Homo sapiens: one gene and its partner. The protein of the gene in region 1 interacts with the protein of each later gene in a pairwise test. Each region holds a gene or a part of one and is shown in the gene's direction. Other genes may lie near its edges.

Evidence for each region.
Region 2: the proteins of KCNC4 (region 1) and BACE1 interact in binary tests that used the Homo sapiens proteins (3 or more experiments, as listed by UniProt).

What each region holds. Positions count from the first base shown.
Region 1 is NC_000001.11:110,204,628-110,214,807, forward strand, and holds the start of KCNC4 (voltage-gated potassium channel KCNC4), read left to right. Parts: upstream 1-5,686; 5' UTR 5,687-6,872; coding exon 6,873-7,550; intron 7,551-10,180. UniProt on the Homo sapiens protein: Voltage-gated potassium channel that opens in response to the voltage difference across the membrane, forming a potassium-selective channel through which potassium ions pass in accordance with their electrochemical gradient.
Region 2 is NC_000011.10:117,290,908-117,300,937, reverse strand, and holds part of BACE1 (beta-secretase 1 isoform A preproprotein), read left to right. Parts: intron 1-1,215; exon of another isoform or gene 1,216-1,290; intron 1,291-3,976; coding exon 3,977-4,065; intron 4,066-5,364; exon of another isoform or gene 5,365-5,390; coding exon of another isoform or gene 5,391-5,440; intron 5,441-5,590; coding exon 5,591-5,807; intron 5,808-6,929; coding exon 6,930-7,067; intron 7,068-7,749; coding exon 7,750-7,884; intron 7,885-8,767; exon of another isoform or gene 8,768-9,124; coding exon 9,125-9,226; exon of another isoform or gene 9,227-9,592; intron 9,593-9,888; coding exon 9,889-10,030. UniProt on the Homo sapiens protein: Responsible for the proteolytic processing of the amyloid precursor protein (APP).

The sequences.
Region 1 (10,180 bases):
AACATCTACTGGAATACAGTATCGACTTCTTTCCATATGGGGATACAATAGGTGCTCATTAAATATTTCCTTCCTTCCTTCTTGCGATCCTGGGCAAGGCCATGGGGCCTACTTCATTCTGGGGGCCCCATCACCCATGCAATGAGCCATCTCCTAAAGCTATTCACAAAGGACAGTTTCAGCCTAAAATCCAGAGAAGCCAAGGAAGGAAGGCAGAAAAGGAACTCTCTCCAGGAAAGGGAGTACCAGAGTGTGGGGGTCTCACTGATCCTGTACATTATCATGTTCACCCCAGCAGTCACCACCAGACAGCTCCAGTCATAGGGACTTGGGCCAAGGCTAAAGTATTCCACAGACCACAAGGCTATTGTGGGGTTTTGTTTTTGTTTTCTTTGTTGTTGGTTGGCCCCAAATTCTTTTTAATACTTCTCCCATCAAAAGTGGAGTCTATGCTCCTCCTCTTGAATCTGGGTGAGCAAATGCTTCCTGTGACCAACAGGGTATAGTAGAAGTGATGCTATGTGACTTCCAAGGCTAGATTAGGAAAGGCCGTGCCACTTCCACCTGGTGTTCTAGGGATACTCATTCTAGAGGCAGCCAGCTGCCATGTAAGACAGCCAACCACCCTGAGACTGCCATGCTAGGGAGGCGATATGTTTGCAGATGCTTAGGTTGACAGCTTCAGCTGAGCTTCCAGCCAACAGCCAGTGTCAACTGCCAGCCACATGAACACAGCATACTGAACGTTTAGCCCAGCTGAGCTTCAGATGTTTGCAGCCCGCTGACATCTGATTGTAGCTGCATAAGAGACCCTAAGCAAGAACTGTTCAACTGAGCCCTTCCTTATTTCCTGACCCATAAAATAATAAACAAAATAAAATGGCTGTTGGGTTTATATCACTACATACTAGGGGTAATTTGTTTCATAACAATAGTAACCAGAATATGAACCTTAGTGATTATCTGGTCAAACCTCCTTGTACAACAATGGGGGAAACGGAGGCCCAAAGAGGAAAAGACCAGACTTCCCACAACCAAGCAAGGGGAAGATCGGGGCCAATGCCTGGGTTTCTTGACTCCCAATCTAGTGCACTCTCTGCCACACAGCAAGAAACTGACAGGGAGGACTCCTCCCCCGCCACCCCCCGCCTCATTAATTCCATGCATCAAGCAAGCATGAATCAGGTATTTTGAGTGCCTGGGATTGTGCTGAGCACTGGGAATATACAAAGGACCAGGCAAGAGTCCCTGGCTCGCAGAGGCAGTCACAATCTGACTTGGGCATCTCCCTTCCTGGCACACTCACTGGTGCCAGGCACGCTGCTGCATTCTTTAATTACATCATCTTAGGTGGGAAGAAACCTTGAGATGGGAGAAGACTATGCCTGTCATTCAACCACAAACCCTTACAAAGATTGATCCATGCCAGGCACAGTCCTGGCTGCAGAGCATAAAGACTCAGTGGGGATCTGCTCTCTGTCCCTGGGTCTGAGCTGCCTGGGTTCTGGGTCCCTCCATTCTGCCCAGGGCTGACCCAAGCAGGGAAGAATCCCTGGACTTCAGGAGCACCCAAGAGGAACCTGAGTTTGGCCTGTCTCTCCAGACACCTGCTTCCCCTTTCCCCAGGATATTGCTGGAGGGGACTGGGCCCATCAGGACTAATTAACTCCTCTAATGGAATGAACCAGTTTTTCCTGGAACTTAGCCCAGGTGGGAGCAATCTCTACTTTTCTAGATGGAGAAATGCTAAGTGTCAAGAGGTCTTGCCAGCCGGACCCTGGGCTAGCGTGCATGTGGCAGGCGCGGTGGCGGGAGTGTGCTGTCTGGATGCAGGCTGAGTTCCCAGCCCAGGAGCCTTAAACAAGGAGGCCTCTAGGGTCCACTCAGCTGGTGGCCCCCGTATCGTTCTCTGTCCTTGGCCCAACACCAGCCCTAGCTCCGTCTCTCAGAGTTCGCTGCTGCTGCTTAGGCCTGACATCCCTAAGCGGGGGGAAGGTGTCCATGAGCTAACACTCAGGTCCCCTCCAACCCTATGACTCCAGGTCCATAGTGTATGAGGCCCTGAGCCCTGCCCAGGCCCGAGCTTCTGATCTCTTCTCTTTAAGAGCTGGGCCTTCAAAGGCCACCTTTGAGCCCCAGATACAACTTCACTGGGATTACCACAGCAACCCAACCCTGCTTTCAGTCCTGAGGCAGAGCCATTCTACTGATCTTCACAAGACCTGAATTACTAGGGCTAGGTTCTCCCCAGAGCCCCTCCCCCACCAACCCCCCTCCCCCCAAAGAAGGCTCTCACATTTGATTTGGAGCCTGCAAGTCTCTGCAGGCTGCTTGGGGTTGGGGGAGGCAGGATGAAGTGAGCTGAGACGCAGACAGGAGGCTGCCAGCCTGCTCTTGCCTTCCCTTCTCTTGTTCCCCCATGAGCGGGGAGGCCCTATCACCCTCTAATGAGTCTGATAAAGCAATTCAATTTTCCAGGCTGGGAGAGAGTGAGGCATGCTGGGAAAGGATGCTGGCTCCTTGGCCTGGACCTGAAGGAGGGTCAGTCCCTGGCAGGAGCTAGAATACCAAAAAGGGAAAGTGTGAGCACCAATGGATAGAACCTTGCCTTGGCCTGGAGCCCCTCACCACAAACAGGTTTCAAAGAAGGAAGATGGAGAGGAGATTGGATGGCTCCAGTCATCCTAAAGAGGCTGAGCCCATACAAAGCTCCCAGTGGGGAAAGGGGAAGGGTAAACGGCTTTGATTTCAGGCTTTCAGCTTCCTACGGACAGGGTCAGCGTCGGCACTCAGAGGGTGAGGACCTTATTATGCGGGTGGAGGGGGGGCCTGGAAAGGGTGCAGGTGCTTGACAGCCTCCATCGGTGCCCCTTTAGAATCTCCCATGGCCCTCTCTTCCTATTCTTTCACCACACCCTCACCCCTGATGAGGGAAACCCGCTGTGGCTGACACCTTCTGTGAACTGGCTTTCAGACAGGTGCTCTTCCCTGACAGCCTGAAGAAGCCAGGGCACTAAGGAGAGGACAAAAGAGAAAAGGTGAAAATGAGGGAAAGAAGCTTGGGGAACTAGGAATTTCCAATAGTGGCTGCTTTGTGGTCTTGCTTAAGCCTGTCAGGTATCAAGGTCTTGGAGGAATGAAGAAGGGAGGGAGTAGGCAGAGTCCCAATGGCAGAGTTAGGCTAGAAGATGTACCTGAGGTCCTGGAATCAACAGGAAGCCCAGAATCAGCTGCCACCCCATCTGCCCACATCACAGCCCCCAGAGCTCAGGGCGAGGTCTGGAGCCAGGATGTTCTAGCACCACCAGAGGGCAGCACCCTCACATCCATGGTAGGCTGTGTCACAGTAGCCTGGGCAGGGGGCTCTCCTATCCTTCCCCGGCTCTGTGTTTTGAGGGAACACCAAGACCTCACACAAAGAAATGATGGGGACAAGTCCCATAGTGCTAACTGCAGCATATCGACTCCCTCAGAGAGGTACACGTAACAGGTGAGCCCAGAGTTCTAGAATAAACCTTCAGCAAGGGTGAGGCATTCTCTGGAGGCCTCAGGACTGAGGCTGAGCTCCCCTCTCCCGAGCTGGTCAGTGCACAGAGCTGGGAGTCCTGGCCCCATGCACCTTTACCCAGCTGCCTCTCTCAGGCTGGGCCCTCTGTTTTTGTCAGCTCTTCCTAGGTTCCTATGCCTGTGTCCCAACTTTCTGATCTTCCTCCCTTCCCTCTTGGCCTCCTTTTTCCCTGGCAGCTTTCTCCCTTTACCCATCTCCCCAGGTGCTCATCACTATCCACAAGCACCGCAGAGTGGAAGCACCAGTTGGGCAGATTTACTAGGATGAGTGGCTGTTTTATTCACTGATGTATTTCCAGTACCCGGAACTGCTTCTGGCATATCGTAGGTATTCAATAAGTGTTCATTGAGTTAATAAGTCAATCAGGGGTGGGATACTATGGGTTTTGTCCCCTTGCCTACTACACTCCCTTTGTTACAATTACTGAGCTCAGTCATCCTGATGAACGGAAAGCAGGGGAGAGACCCCAAGGGACTTTGCCAGGACACGGACCAGATAGGACTTGAAAGTTATTCATTACATTAATATTCTGTGGTTCTTTCTTCCTCACTCCAGTTTCTGGCCTGTCCCGGGTCTTCTCTTCCCAGTCACACTTGGGATATTTCTTTTCACTGCAGCAAACTCAAAGACAGCTAAACTCTGAAATACAAACATCAGTTTCGAGGAGCAGGGACTGGGCACAAAGGGGGTGCCAGTAAATGTGTGTTTCTGATTAACTCACCTCCCCTGCGTGTCAGTACAGATCATCAAAGATCATTGTCATTTTGGTTTTCTGGCCTCATTAATAATGAGACTTTTGCTTGTAAAAATCCCTTGCATTGGCACTGAGCTTTTAACCTTTCCTGAGACACACATAGGCCCTTGTCTTGTTTTTCTCAGTTGAGCTAGGTACTGCCTGATCTGGAACTGGGAAGGTGCACAGGTGTCCAGGGCAGGTGTGTCATTCACCTTTCATTTCTGCCTCAAGATCTCTTTACATCATCCAGACAGGCATGGAGGCTGCCTGAAGCTGTAAAAAAGAAAAAAAAACCCAATGGGGATTAATATGAAGATGTAAAATAGGTTCTGGACTTAACAAAAACAAATGAATCTGGAAATTGCTCTTGGGATAGGGCCAGTAAAGTCCTGTTGGTGCCTACGTTTTGGGTATGGCAGCTTCTCAATCACTTAGCAAACAGGTTCTCAGAGGCAGGCACTGTGGGAGCTATCAAGATGAAAAAGCACAATGCCGCCTGCAGGAGCTCAGGGTTAGGGAGGGGAGAGGAGACATATACACAGGCAAAGTCAAATTGTAATGGGTAGAATAAGAGTAGAAACAGGAAGGGGTCATGAGGCAGGACACGGGCATTTCCTATGTGGACCCCAGAGCAATGACGAGCAAAGGCTTTAACTAATGACTTTTCAGGGCCACCCACCCACTCCACATCCATAAAACATTTCGCGATGAACACAGCCAGAGCTACGGTTTCCTTCCATCCGGCACAAGAAGCGCTTCTCTGCCCAAGGCCACCCCGTCCTCCATTCCATCGCGGGGACTTTGGTGGCTGGGACAGAGGCGGAGAGCATCAAGACCATGGGTGTCTTGGGCTACGTTGGGCCTCCGAGGCGCAGGATGCGGGGCGGGGTGGTCAGAAGGCCCCAACACGGTCCCTGGGAAAGGAGAGGGCAGCCTGATCCTCGCGACAGCGTCTCTACCCTCTTTCTTCCTTGGCCTTCCGTCAGCCGCAGTGAAACGGCAACAGTGCGACCAGCTTGGCGGGGAGGGGGCGAGGGACGAAGCAAGAAGAGCCGGGCGGAGGTTAGAGGTCAGGGGTCGAGAGCGCTTCGGTGTCAGCGGGCTGCGGTGGGAGGAGCTGCGGGCCCGGGGGAGGCGCGGAGCAGGGCTGAGGGGGGCGGGAGGGGTTGCCGGCGGAAGCGCGCAGGGGCGGCGCGCTGGGCTGGGCACTGGCGGCGAGGAGGTGACGCGCTTGGTTGGGGCTCGGCTCCGGGGAGGAAGACTGCGCTCGGTCGCCAGGGCCTGCAGTGAGTCGGATCGGCCCCGCGCTGCGCCGCGCCCCGCCCACCCCGCCCCGCGAAGGGCGCGTCTGGGCGAGGCGGGGCCCCGGAGGAAAAGGCGCCACTGGGGCGTGGCGGCCGCTGCCAGCGCCGGAGGGAGACCATGAGCCCCTAGGGCCCCAGCCCACCGGCGCCGAGGCGCCCCCTCCCCTATGCCACCTCGCGCCCGCCCCCTGCCGCGCGCGAGCCAAGGCCGGCGCCCCGCCCGGAGATGGGCAGACGCGTAGATGGCGTGGCTCCCAGCGCCGCCAGATCGCAGGAACCAGGCGCCGGGGCGTTGCGCTGAGGCTCCCTCTCCGCGCGGCCCGGGAAGCCTGCAGGTGTCCTTGGCCGCTCGGCCGCCGCCCCCGGTACACCTTCGCCAGTGCCCAGAGCCCGGCTCCCCAGAGCGGCCCCGCCCCCCAGGCTCGGCGCCGCGCAGGACGCCCCGTCTGAGGCACCCCCGCCCCAGCGCGGCCCCCGCAGCGCTGCGCCCGGTCCGGCGCAGCTCCCAGCCGCGGACGCAGGACCCGAGGCTCGCTCCTGCGGGCGCGCTTGTTTTCCAGCTGCCGCCTCGCCCTGCGCAGCCCCCGCCCGCCCGGCCGCCGCTCTCTGCTCTGCCCCGCCTGCCTTCCTCGCCCGGCGCTGGATTTATGAATGGGGGGAAGAGGCCACATGCCGCCGCCGCCGCCTCGTGTTGACCGCAAGCAGCCCGGGCCCACGGAGCTCCGGCTGCCGTGAGAGTGTCGGCCTGGCCCCGGCAGCCGCTCGGAGGACTTGTTGCTGCTGCGCTGCCGCCGCTGCGGGGAAGCCGGCTATTCCGGGGCTTGGTGCGGTCTTGGAGCCGGAGGGTGGCCCGTGTGAGCGCGAGCGCCCCGGACCTTCGCGGTGCGCGTGGACTGTGCGCTTCCTCGTCTTTGGTCGGGGTGAAGGCGGGGGCGTGTCCCCGGCCCAGAGCGTTTGTGTGTCCCGTCGTAGCGGGGGACCGCGTGTGTGCTTGCTTCTACTTCCCCGGGTCCTCCCTCTCTGCGCCTCCCTCTCTCCGGAGCTTCCTGCCCTAACCCCAACCACCTGTGTACCGGAGAAATCCAACTCCTCCCGCTCCGCGTCCTAGGGGGATAGGCAGGGGCAAGCCCAAGCCGCAGAGGGGGCCGCCACCGCCTCCTGCCTCCTCTTCGTCTCCTCCCCCTCCCCCGTCTGACGCTGCCTCCTCGGGAAGGGTGTTTGGAGGGCAGCGGCCGCCCCAAGCCGGAGCCCCGCAGCGCTTCTTATGATCAGCTCGGTGTGTGTCTCCTCCTACCGCGGGCGCAAGTCGGGGAACAAGCCTCCGTCCAAAACATGTCTGAAGGAGGAGATGGCCAAGGGCGAGGCGTCGGAGAAGATCATCATCAACGTGGGCGGCACGCGACATGAGACCTACCGCAGCACCCTGCGCACCCTACCGGGAACCCGCCTCGCCTGGCTGGCCGACCCCGACGGCGGGGGCCGGCCCGAGACCGATGGCGGCGGTGTGGGTAGCAGCGGCAGCAGCGGCGGCGGGGGCTGCGAGTTCTTCTTCGACAGGCACCCGGGCGTCTTCGCCTACGTGCTCAACTACTACCGCACCGGCAAGCTGCACTGCCCCGCGGACGTGTGCGGGCCGCTCTTCGAAGAGGAGCTCACCTTCTGGGGCATCGACGAGACCGACGTGGAACCCTGCTGCTGGATGACCTACCGGCAGCACCGCGACGCCGAGGAGGCGCTCGACATCTTCGAGAGCCCGGACGGAGGCGGCAGCGGCGCGGGGCCCAGCGACGAGGCCGGCGACGATGAGCGGGAGCTGGCCCTGCAGCGACTGGGCCCCCACGAGGGAGGCGCGGGCCATGGCGCCGGGTCTGGGGGCTGCCGCGGCTGGCAGCCCCGCATGTGGGCGCTCTTCGAGGATCCCTACTCCTCCCGGGCCGCTAGGGTGAGTGGCAGGAGCCCGTGTCTCCCCATCTTGGGTCTGCAAGGGGTCCGTGGTGGGTGGTGGGTAGGGGCCGGGAGGAGCAGGGACCGAGCCTGACTTACCTTACCACCGCAGATTGTTCCCGCCTTCCTCTCAACCCCCCTCCGTGGCTCGCAGGGGAATTACACACTCCCACCCTCTCCCCTGCACGCTCCATCAGGAGATTGCACACACTTGACTTACTACTTGGACCCAGTCCCAGCTGCCTGCTTTGCCGCATCCCCTCCAGTGAGTGGGGTGCCCAGCTCAGCTCCTCCACCCCCTTCTTTGGTCTGCACAGGCTGCCCTATCTTCAGCTGCCCTCCACTCCACACAGGACTACGGTCCTGGAAGAGCTGGAATTTGGTCTTCTGATGGGGGCAGGCAGGGTTGAGAGGAAGGAAACTAGGGTGGGTTTTGTTAGATGCTTCCATGCCGTGCCACCTCATTTACATCCTCCCAGCAGCTCAGTGTGCTCACAACTATGCACTTCAGAGAGGAGGATATAGGCTTCAGCATCTTAAGCTCAGAAGAGGCAAAGCTGAGACCACAATCCGGCCTCCTTTCCAGGTTTAAGAAAGGCATTCTTTCTGCCAGGGAGGATACCATGCCCCTGAGGCTTCCTGCACACCTGGGATGTCCTGGCCTCAGCTGGGGTGAGAGGAGAATTAAACACGAAGGGCCTAGCGTTCTAGGCTCTGCAGGCTCCCACGGCCAGTGGCCAGCCACAGGCTTCCTGGTGATGATACCAGATTTTTGTTGCCGCTTCTTTTCTTTCTGCTGCAGCACAAACTGTCTTTCCAGAAAGCCCTGGTTCAGGTTACTGCTTGAAATGGGTGTATGAGGGAAGGGGGAAGCACAGGTTGATTTAGGCAAGACCTACCGCCTCCTCCCCAAGTAAATCCAGTTTCCCTAACTCCTTTAGGTGAAAGGGGAGAACGGGGGAGGTGCTTCCCCCATTATGCTTCGACAGCTAAAAAAAAAAAAAAAAAAAAAAAAAAATCCCTGAAGGATGGCTTTAGATTCTTTAAAGAAAGAAAACTCTGGGGGCTGGTGTCGGATCTCATGGTCAGCAGCCTAAAGCCTGGCTGGAGTCTGTCTGGGAGACAGGAAAGAGCAATGTAACTTGTTGGGTCTGGGGACTGCTGCTTGCTGTGGAACCTGGTTGGTTCCTCCAGCATCCCAAATTGTCATGTTAATGAGTCTCAGAGCACCCTCCCTTTCCCAGCACCCCTGTGCTGGACTCCTTCCTAGTCATAGAAGAAGGCAGGGTAGGGAATTGGGGAACAGGCCTGCAGGGAAAAGCCAGGCTGGCATAAATGCCAGGCCAGGGCAGATGCATCTTCTGCCTGGAAGAGAAGGGAGGAGCAGAGGTCTCAGGGGCCATGGCATACCGGGCTGGGGCTGCAGGCAGCCACGAGAAGGCAGGGATCTTTCTCAGGACTGACAACAAAGCTAGAGGCAACTGTCTGGGTTTCTTTCCTTGCAGCCCTGAGACTGGCTAAGAAGGTGAGGGCATAGTGATGCCCCTGGCCTGGGTCTGCTGTGAGTTCTACAGACTTCTCATGTAGGTCACTAACCTTGCTAGTGTTAGCACTTGGCTGTCTGCATTAGGGGAGAGAGGGCAGGCACACATCATTCAGACTCTTTCAAAGTTGGGGGTCGGGGAGGAGAGATAGAGATAGAGATGGGGAAAGGGGACAAACCAGGGAAGCAGGGATGAGATGAGGTGGTTAGGGGAGCTAGGCCCTATTTCTGAGCATTCTGGGACTTCTAGGGGCTTTTCACCTGCTCTTCTTCCCCTCTGGAATTCCAGGTGGCACCCCACATATCATTGAGTTTATTTTCTTCCTAACTCACTGCTGAATGGCCAAGCCAGGGGGCCTCTTTGAGTAAGCTCAGAGCCTGGCCTGCCCCTGGAAGTCTTCCCAGGAACCCAGGGTGCTTTGCCCCTTTGACATGGAATCACATCAGCCCAGGCATTCCAGTTGAGGTCTTGAAGTTTATGATGGAGCAAGGTTAATTCTTCCATTTAAACATTGAGAAAACCAGGATTCAGAGACATTAAGTTTCTTGCCAAAGACATTTAACTAATAGCAGAGGCAGGAAACCACCCCTAGTTTCCAGCCTTCTGGTTGTTCATCCTGATGTGAATATCTGGATGGAGCTCTGGCCAACACATGCACTAAAAGAGGACTTGCCTCCTGCTCAGGAGCCCAGGCAAAGGCAACCCTCACCTGCTCCCGGGACACACAAGTGGGAATACATAATTTTTACAAATTAATGAATAACTGCTCATTATTGAGCACCCCAGACAGATACATTGCTGTATATACTTTACATTAATCTCTAATCCTCCCAATAAACTTAAAACCCGGTGATTATCCCCGTTTAATAGATTGAGGCTGTGAGAAGGTAAACAACTTGCCTGAGATCACACAGCCAGATAGTGGCCAGGCTTTGAATCAAAGCCAGAGTCCCTGACTCCCAAGCCCTTGCTCTTGTGATTACAACACCTTCTTTCCACTGAACTAGGCTGTTTTTGAGGCAGAGAGCTTGTTTCTTACTGTAGCCTGAGAAATGTCCTTCTGAGGTTCTGTACCTCCTGTGGA
Region 2 (10,030 bases), on another chromosome or scaffold:
TGAAGGGAGAGGAGAGAGGGGACTGGAGGCGGATGTGAGATTAAGGAAGTTTTTTGTTTTGTTTTTGTTTTAATGAAGAGATGAGCATCTGTAAATGTCAACAGGAAGAATTCAGATTTGGTGGAGATGGGGCCAGGGTGGGGTGGCTGTATCTATGTGAGGGAAAAGGGCCAAGGAAGAGGTGGGTGCCTGGGAAGGGAGGAGGGACTTGACTCCCCAGCACAGGTGGCAGCTCATGAGGAGCCTGGAAGGGGCAGCCGCAGGCAGGTTGGTGTGGTTGGCTGTGGGAGATGAGGGCAGTCTCATCCCCTGGCCCAGTTCAGTGACCCGAGAGGGGAACCCAGCTGCTGGGGTTCGGCGGCTGCAGCCCCTCCACCGCTGCCTCTGCCCAGGCCGCCCTGAACTGCCCTGTTTCATAATGAGCAAGCAGTGCCTCAGCCTTGCCTCGGGCCCGTCCTGTTAAGAGCCCCCCCCATCCCCCCGCTTGGAATGGAGCAGGGGTGGGGAAAAGGCTGCCGGGACTGGCCAGGGCTCCCATTCGAAGCGCTGAAGGACAGGACCAGAATTACTTCTCTCGGGCGGGAGCACACCGCAGAGGGCAGACGGGTCGACATTTGCTCGGGAGAGAAGCCCAACTGTTTATTCTGGTTTTCTTTTGTGTGTGTGTGTAAGGTGGAGAGGGGAGGCAGAGAGCAGTGGGGACCTGAAATCGTAGTATTGGGGTGGGTGAGAGGGATGGGAGTGGAGGGGGACGTTCCTTCCTGGGCTCGGCCTGGCCCCCTTTGGGGTGGCAGGGGGAAAGGCTGGGGCTGGAAGGACAGCAAGAGCGCCCAGGGCCTCAGGGCTGGGGTGGGAGTACCCTGCAGAGAGCTCCCTCCTGCCTCGCAGGAGAGGAAGGGGGAGGCAGGGAGGGGCAGGGACAGCAGGAGCCCCCAGGTCAAAGCTCCACTCCAGTGTAAAGCAGTAGCCATATTTGCTTAGAACTTGCCGGATGTTCCCTCCCTTGCACAGGCCACAGAGACTTGTTGTGGAGGAGATCCTCTTTCTTTGGGGTCCAGTGATAGCAGGGAGCCCTGTAATATGAGGCCAGCCCCCCATGCTGGGAGCTGAGTCCTGAGAATGGGGAAGAGGGTTCGTGGGGAGAGGGTGGGTGAAGAAGCCTTCTTAATCATTAACCTGGTTGATTTCATCTGAACTGCTGAGCCTCCCAGCTCTATTGATTTTCTCTGAAAGCACAGCATCTGGAGCTGGTGGCTGCCCAGAGACCGGGGAGAGAGACCACGGGTAGAGGTAGGGGAAGAGGGGCAGGGAGGGGAATGGAAACCAGGCCAGGAGTGGGGGGCTGGGAAGGAGGGAGGAGACAAGGTCTGAGGGCCGGGAGATTGTCAGAGGAGTCTTTGGGGATGTGAGGAGGCCAGGAGGTCTAAGCAGGCACTGGGGGAGGGCACAGTCAGCACAGCCACAGAGGCACCACGGAGAGCAGGAAGGAGCCAGAGAGGATCTGGCAGAGAGGACGAAACTGAAGTCCAGAGAAGCACAGTGATCTGCTCAAGGTGACAGGGTCAGGGCCTGCACCAAAACTGAGGTCAGTTGATTTCACTGGACTGAGGAGAGAAGATACAGAAATGAAGGCCCCTGGGGCAGAGGAGAACCTGAGGTGATGGAAAGTCGGCAAGAGGCGAGATGCAACTTACAAATTACCATTTTTCTGAGGGTGGGGCCTTTCCTTTTTTTGCCTGTGAGGATATAGTAGACTTTCAAAAAATGGCTCTGGTCTGACTGAAGGTGGGGTCAGGCCATCAAAGGAGGAAGAAAGGGCCAAGGAGAAGTGATGCTAGAGGCCGGGCATGGTAGCTCACGCCTCAGCACTTTGGGAGGCCGAGGCAGGTGGATCACCTGAGGTCAGGAGTTCGAGACCAGCCTGGCCAACGTGGTGAAACCTCGTCTCTACTAAAAATACAAAAATTAGCCCTGCGTGGTAGCGCACACTTGTAATCCCAGCTACTCAGGAGACTGAGACAGGAGAATCACTTGAACCCAGGAGGCGGAGATGGCAGTGAGCCGAGATCGCGCCATTGCACTCCAGCCTGGGTAACAAGAGCGAAACTCCATCTCAAAAAAAAGAAGTGATGCTAGAAAGAGCTGGACAGAAGGGAACACCAAGACACCTGTCCATCTTCACTTAGCCAAATCCAGGGCCCTGACAAGATGGGTTTTCACCAGGACATTTTATGGGGCTCCTGGCTCCCCACTATTTCTGACAGTAGGATTCCTAGGTCTGTGTCACCTGTGAGACAGAAGGGGAGCCACATTCTGGTGGCAGGGACAGAACCACACGCATGGACACTGATGTGCCATCCTGGTCCCCACAGGTCCCCTGACCAGTACAGCTCCTAGAATAGGTCTTCTCTGAGCTGGAGGGGATAAGCCAGACTGCTTCCTGGGAGAATTGAAAAGGAGCAGGGGGCCCTGAAGACAGAATCAGTCAGGTACACAGTGAGCAGGGGTGATGTGACGGTAGAGAGACATGGGAACAGAGACAGCACACACACCACATAGCTCTGAGATGACGCACAAAATGTTATGACTCCATAGACTGAAGCAGACACAGCGTTTCTTTTCTTTTCTTTTTTTTTTTGAGACGGAGTGTTGCTCTCGTCCAGGCCGGAGTGCAGTGGTGTAATTTCGGCTCACTGCAACCTCCGCCTCCTGGGTTCAAGTGATTCTCCTGCCTCAGCCTCCCAAGTAGCTGGGATTATAGGCGTGCGTCACCACACCCGGCTAATCTTTGTATTTTTAGTAGAGATGGGATTTTACTACATTCACCAGGCTGGTCTTGAACTCCTGACCTCAAGTGATCCACCCGCCTTAGCCTCTCAAAGTGTTGGGATTACAGTTGTGAGCCACTGTGCTGGCCTCAGACACAGCATTTCTAAGGCCATGTTGAGGGTGCCAAAGGAAACCAAGATATTTTACCCCAGAATATACTACTTTGACGTATTTTGAGTCGGCTGTCAGAGGGCCAGCACACAGAAGTGGCCCTGCAAATCTGGCTTTTGAGGGAGATTTGCATCTGCAGAGAATCTGCATTGATGCAACCTGGCTTTCTCTGAGGCCCTCCCTGGTCCAAATCTAGGAAAGATTAACTGAAAGTCTGACATGTTTAAAGGTCTGAAAGACACATACATCACCTGTTTTCTCTGAGGGGTGTTACCTATGAGGTTTCATTCATATAAAAAGACCACTTTTACTGGCCTGGCCTCCGTTTATCCCTCCCATAACTATTTTTGCCAAAGTCCAAGTCCCTTTTTTTTTTGTTGTTGAGACAGGGTCTCTGTCGCCCAGGCTGGAGTGCAGTGGCATGGTCTCAGTTCACTGCAACCTCCACCTCCCAGGGTCAAGTGAGTCTCATGCCTCAGCCTCCTGAGTAGCTGGGACTACAGGCATGTGCCACCATGTCCAGCTAATTTTTGTATTTTTAGTAGAGACAGAGTTTCGTCCTGTTGGCCAGGCTGGTCTCAAACTCCTCACCTCAGGTGATCCACCTGCCTCAGCCTCCCATAGTGCTGGGATTACAGGGGTAAGCCACTGCACCTTGCCCAAGCTCCCATTCTTTCTGTAACCTCAAGATGGTATAAAATCATCAACCATCTGGCTATCTCTTTGACTTCCTATATTTTTTTGACTCCCTTGCATATTAGTTCTTCTACTAATCTGCCTTTTTTCAGTTGGTTTTTCAGCAGACCTGCAGAGGGCACAGGGGAAGTGTTCCTTTGGCCCCTGCAGCACCACAGGACCCCAGGTCCTGTCTGTGGTCGTGGTGGTAACGGGTGCCAGCCTGGACCAGTCCTGCATCGTGGAGCTTCACTCTGGACATTCTAAGGGGCAGACTGTGGCTGGGGCGTGAGGGATAATAAAGGTGGTGTGACCGAAGCCTCCTGTCTATACTGTCTTTTCTCTCCCCTTTCTCTGACAGCTCAACATCCTGGTGGATACAGGCAGCAGTAACTTTGCAGTGGGTGCTGCCCCCCACCCCTTCCTGCATCGCTACTACCAGAGGCAGCTGTGAGTCCTGGGGAGAGCCCGGGGGAAGTACCTTTTCCAAGGATCCAGGGCTAAGAAGGGTCAGGGGAGGGGTACAGAGAGAAAGAGTTGATCCTCAGATTTTCTTCTTGCCAGGGAAGGGGAAGGGCGAAAAAAAGACAGTGACCAGGAGAGACAGGGTGAAGTGGGTGGTGAGAGGAGCTATACCATGGGAAAGGGTGAATTGAGAGGTAGCCAGGAAGTGCTTCAGTGCTGAGACAGGGCAGCCTCCTGTGGGAGGGAAAGGAAGAAGAGCCCATAGCTCACAGAACAATCTTAGGGGGCCCATTTTCTCTGCCTGAATGGGGAGACGAAAACCCCACATCCCCTCGGTGTCTCTCAGTTCTCTAACACCAGCTAAGTCTAAGCTGAACAGGCCTCAGTGACGGCTCCCCTTGCTGTGTTCTTACCCAGGGGCCACTCTAGGTGGCTTTGCATAGTCCAAGGACATGAAGGAAAGGGTCTTTCATAAACCCCTCTGCCTAGACCAGTATCAGAACTGAAAGCTGAAATATCTCCTCCATGCACCACCCAGGGTGCCACCAGTTGGATTCAGCTTACTGGTGAAAGGGGGGTTGAAGAGGACTGGTGAAAGTGGGGGACTGGTGAAAGGGGGGTTGAAGTGGGCTTTAAGATAAGAGGCAGTGAGGGGTAATCTGGAAGCCCCCTTAGCATAAAAGCAGGAAGAAGAAGGGATGAGAGGACACCAATATCTGAGACATCAGTGTGTGCAAACGTGAGTAGAGGCTTAAATCCTATCCTTGGACTTGTAGGCAGCTGCAAAACGCACCTTCCCTGTTTCCTCTAATGTCCCAATCTAAAAGAAGCAGTCAGGGAGGAGGGTGCAGGTAGGATCGATGAAAGGGCATTCACTCCAGTTCCTCGTTCCAGTTCCATCACTGCCCCCACCACACACAGAAGCCCTGGTTAGTGGTGTGATTAAACACAGGTGGGGCTGCCACATGTTGAGCACGTTTCACAGAAGTGGTGTGTAATACCAACCTGCTTTTCTGAGATGCTTGAACAAACCCCTTCTCTAGAACTTGCTGTAGAGGTTCCACATTCACCCTGCCTGGCACTTTCTCTACCACTCGGATGGTACCACTAGGTTCCAAGGCAGTAAGAGAGTCAATGGTTCCTTTTCTCGGGGAGCTTGACGGAGCCAGAGGGCGGAAGAGATGCCCACTAGCTGTCCCTGCAGCAGCAGCAGCAGCAGGCACAATGCACAAAGCCCAGGCTTGTTCTTCACAGGGCCTGAGCTCAAGATCTAGGAATATGAGCAATAGATAGGAGAGCAAGCCTCACCAATGGTTCCCTTCATCTATCTGCAAGCCCACTTTACACTCTGTTCTGGGTGGTGAGTCTAGGGATGTTTTGCTGAGCAGCCTGAAAGCAGACTCTAGGATTCCCCTGAGATGAGATAAGGTGGTGTTTGGGAGTAAGTTTAACTTAGATCCTTATACCAGTTGTGGTTATGCATCCACAGATCTCTGCCTTCTTTCCACAGGTCCAGCACATACCGGGACCTCCGGAAGGGTGTGTATGTGCCCTACACCCAGGGCAAGTGGGAAGGGGAGCTGGGCACCGACCTGGTAAGCATCCCCCATGGCCCCAACGTCACTGTGCGTGCCAACATTGCTGCCATCACTGAATCAGACAAGTTCTTCATCAACGGCTCCAACTGGGAAGGCATCCTGGGGCTGGCCTATGCTGAGATTGCCAGGGTGAGAGGAACAGGGCTTGGCCCTACACACTCTATGCACACTGCACTATACAGAGAAGGAATTAGGAGAGAGAAGGGGAATTAGCAGAAGGAGGGCAACAATCAGTTTAAAGGATTATTTAACAGGGGTATAGGGTGGCAGTCTAAATTTTAGCCCTATAGAGGGCAGAACCATAGTGACAGAAGCTGTGATAGGTACAAGAATAGGCTGTGCTTTCTATGTACTCTTAAGATCTTTTTTTTTTTGAGACGGAGTTTCACTCTTGTTGCCCAAGCTGGAGTGCAATGGTGCAATCTTGGCTCACTGCAACCTCCACCTCCTCGGTTCAAGCGATTTTCCTGCCTCAGCCTCCCGAGTAGCTGGGATTATAGGCGCCCACCATGACGCCCGGCTAATTTTTTCTATTTTTAGTAGAAATGGGGTTTCATCATGTTAGCCAGGCTGGTCTCGAACTCCTGACCGCAGGTGATCCGCTCACCTCGGCCTTCCTAAGTGCTGGGATTACAGGCATGAACCACCGCGACCAGCCACTCTAAGATCTTTAATAAAGGCCCCCATAAATTTGAAGCAGGTTAGGCATAGGGGGATCAAAGATATATGAACCTGGCCAGGCGTGGTGGCTCACACCTGTAATCCCAGCACTTTGGGAGGCCAAGGCGAGCGGATGACCTGAGGTCAGAAGTTCAAGACCAGCCTGACCAACATGGTGAAACCCCATCTACCCCATCTCTACTGAAAACACAGAAATTAGCCGGGCATGTTGGCGCATGCCTATAATCCCAGCTACTCAGGAGGCTGAGGCACGAGAATCACTTGAACCCAGGAGGTGAAGGTTGCAGTGAGCCGAGATCGTAACATTGCACTCCAGCTTGGGCAACAAGAGCAAAACTCTGTCTCAAAAAAAAAAAAAAGATCTATGAATCTGTGAACCTATCAATACTGTCCTGTTTGCATTGCCAGGGCTCCTGCTAACCCTTCCTCTGCCAAATCTCAGTGCCTTAAGATGGTCTTTCCCAAGGAGCATCCCCCAAGCCTTCAAATTTGCCTTCCAGTTTAGACAGGAAGCTGGCCTCTGCCTTTAGGGCCGTATGAGGACTCACTCCTTGTCTCTTTCTGCCAAAGCCTGACGACTCCCTGGAGCCTTTCTTTGACTCTCTGGTAAAGCAGACCCACGTTCCCAACCTCTTCTCCCTGCAGCTTTGTGGTGCTGGCTTCCCCCTCAACCAGTCTGAAGTGCTGGCCTCTGTCGGAGGGAGCATGGTGAGTAGGTCCTCAGAGAGGGGAGGTCCTGGCATTGAGGGAGAGATGGGTGCCATCCTCTCCCCTTCCTGAAAGCTACACCACAGTTTTGGCTCCGATACTTAGAATCAGGAGGAACCTCTTTATATTCCCTACCCTTACTTTATTTTTCCATTCTTTTCTTTTTTGCGTTATTCCAGAAAGGAATCAAGGCACCTATGGTAAACTTGGAAAGGAAGGCAATTAGGAAAATTTCAAAGGAAATGAAAATAAGACCTGTTGAATTAAAATTATTCAGTTTGATGGTCAGAAGGCAGAGATATAAGAAGTTTGTCTATTTATTAATTAATTAGAACAATGGTGAATGGTTCTCCAATAAGCAGAGAAAATAAAACTTATAATATAAACAAATAACCATTCATTCAACATTTATTGTGGCAGTTTAGATTTAAATAACTTTATATCAAGGGCTGTATGATTCTGAAACAAATAATTAAAAATCCCGGAAAGTCTTTTCTCCTGAACACATTTAAGAAACTAGAAATCACTTTGGGTATGATTTGTTTAGAAGCAGGAAGATGAAAAGGGTAGCCTGTAGAAGACCTTGCCACCCCAAGAAATCACTGATCTTATTGCTTGGTCCTTGGGGGACTCACTCTCCTTCTGTGCCAGGACACGGGTACCTGCCTCTTTTTTTCCCTAGATCATTGGAGGTATCGACCACTCGCTGTACACAGGCAGTCTCTGGTATACACCCATCCGGCGGGAGTGGTATTATGAGGTGATCATTGTGCGGGTGGAGATCAATGGACAGGATCTGAAAATGGACTGCAAGGAGGTAAGAAAACCAAGGGAGAGCCTGGGAACATAAGGGGGTAGGCAGTACAATGTGAAGGAAGACTCTGGTTATCATGTTGGGAGGATGAGGCAGAGGTAATAGGACCTGCAGAAAGGGTTGGAAGTTGAGCCTAGAACAGTCAGGGGCTTAATGGTCACACAGCAGGATCTGCGGTTTGGGGCCTAGGGACTGGTAGTGAAAAAAAAAACATGGAACTAGTTCTGATGTCTGGACTCTAGTCACTGCCTTGCTTCGTAGCCTTGGGCAAGTCTTTTGTGAGACAGGGTGATAGAATGAAGAGTCTTGTCTTTGGAGTCAGGAAGACCCAGATCTGAATCTAGCTCTGATTTGTACTAGCTATGTACCCTTAGGCCAGTTACTATTCTGTGTCTCAGTTTCCTTATCTGCAAAACAGGTAAAAACAACTTTCTCAGAATATCAGAGATAATGTGTAAAGTGTTTATCTCTGTGGTTGGCAGTACTCAATAAAAGGTAACTAAATCATTTATGTCTTCCTTCCCTAGATTCTTATGTATGTTAAATTAGAATAGATATAAATGTACTAAGAAAAGTTAAAAGCGGCCGGGCGTGGCTGTAATCCCAGCACTCTGGGAGGCCAAGGCGGGGGCAGATCATTTGAGGTCAGAAATTCGAGACCAGCCTGGTCAACATGGTGAAACCCCATCTCTACTAAAAATAGCCAGGCGTGGTGGCAGGCACCTGTAGTCCCAGCTACTTGGGAGGCTGAGGCAAAAGAATGGTTTGAATCCAGGAGGCAGAGGTTAGAGTGAGCCGAGATCACGCCACTGTACTCCAGCCTGGGTGACAGAGCTAATACTCCATCTCAAAAAAAAAAAAAAAAAAAAAAAAAAGAAAAGAAAAGTTAAAAGCACTAAACAAGGTATTTTTATTTTCAAGTTTGGAGACTACCTGCCCACCCAAGATTAACAAGAATAAACATTTACCAAGTGCCTTCTCTCTGCTGGGCACGATTCTAAGTGCTTTACATTGCTGATTTATTTAATCCTTACAATAACCCTTTGAGGTAGGTGCTATTTTTATCCTCACTTTAGAGATGAAGGAACTGAGGCACAGAGGTTAACTTGTCCAAGCAGGTACACTTAGGAGGTGCCAAAGCCAAGATGCCAACCCAGCTGGGGCCCCAGCAGTAACCCCCTACTGCCCAGAGCCCAGCATCAAAAACCTTTTGACTCTTTTAACTCTCTCTTTTCCCTCTTAGTACAACTATGACAAGAGCATTGTGGACAGTGGCACCACCAACCTTCGTTTGCCCAAGAAAGTGTTTGAAGCTGCAGTCAAATCCATCAAGGCAGCCTCCTCCGTGAGTGGACTAAGGATGGGGGTAAAAGAGATGGTACAGTGTCAGAGGGAGGCGGTGAGAGTCACATTCTTCAGCAACAGCCAAGATGTCTGCACTTAGACCCTTCTACTCAGAGCTCTTAAAACACTCTTCCCCTAGCCAGGCGTGGTGGCTCACGCCTGTAATCCCAGCACTTTGGGAGGCCAAGGTGGGCAGATCACTAGGTCAGGAGTTCAAGACCAGCCTGACCAACAGGGTGAAATCCCATCTCTACTAAAAGTACAAAAATTAGCTGGGTGTGGTGGCGCACGCCTGTAATCCTAGCTACTCAGGGGGCTGAGACAGGAGAATCACTTTAACTCAGGACGGTGGAGGTTGCGGTGAGCCATGATTGCGCCACTGCACTCCAGCCTGGGCAACAGAGTGAGACACTGTTTCAAAAAAAAAAAAAAAACTCTTCCCCTTTATGGCTGTCACTTTGCTCATCACACAATCCCCCGGTACAAAAGTTTGACATCACACTCCCTCTCTCTTCCTGTAATCCTCTGGTTGGTTTACCCCTCCCCACTTTAGATATTTCACTGGAAAAGCAAATGAAGGGCCCAGTTAATGTATCTGAACATGGGAGGGGCGAGATGATAAAGAGGCTTTTCCTCATTGTTATCCCCTTCTTGCCAACACAGACGGAGAAGTTCCCTGATGGTTTCTGGCTAGGAGAGCAGCTGGTGTGCTGGCAAGCAGGCACCACCCCTTGGAACATTTTCCCAGTCATCTCACTCTACCTAATGGGTGAGGTTACCAACCAGTCCTTCCGCATCACCATCC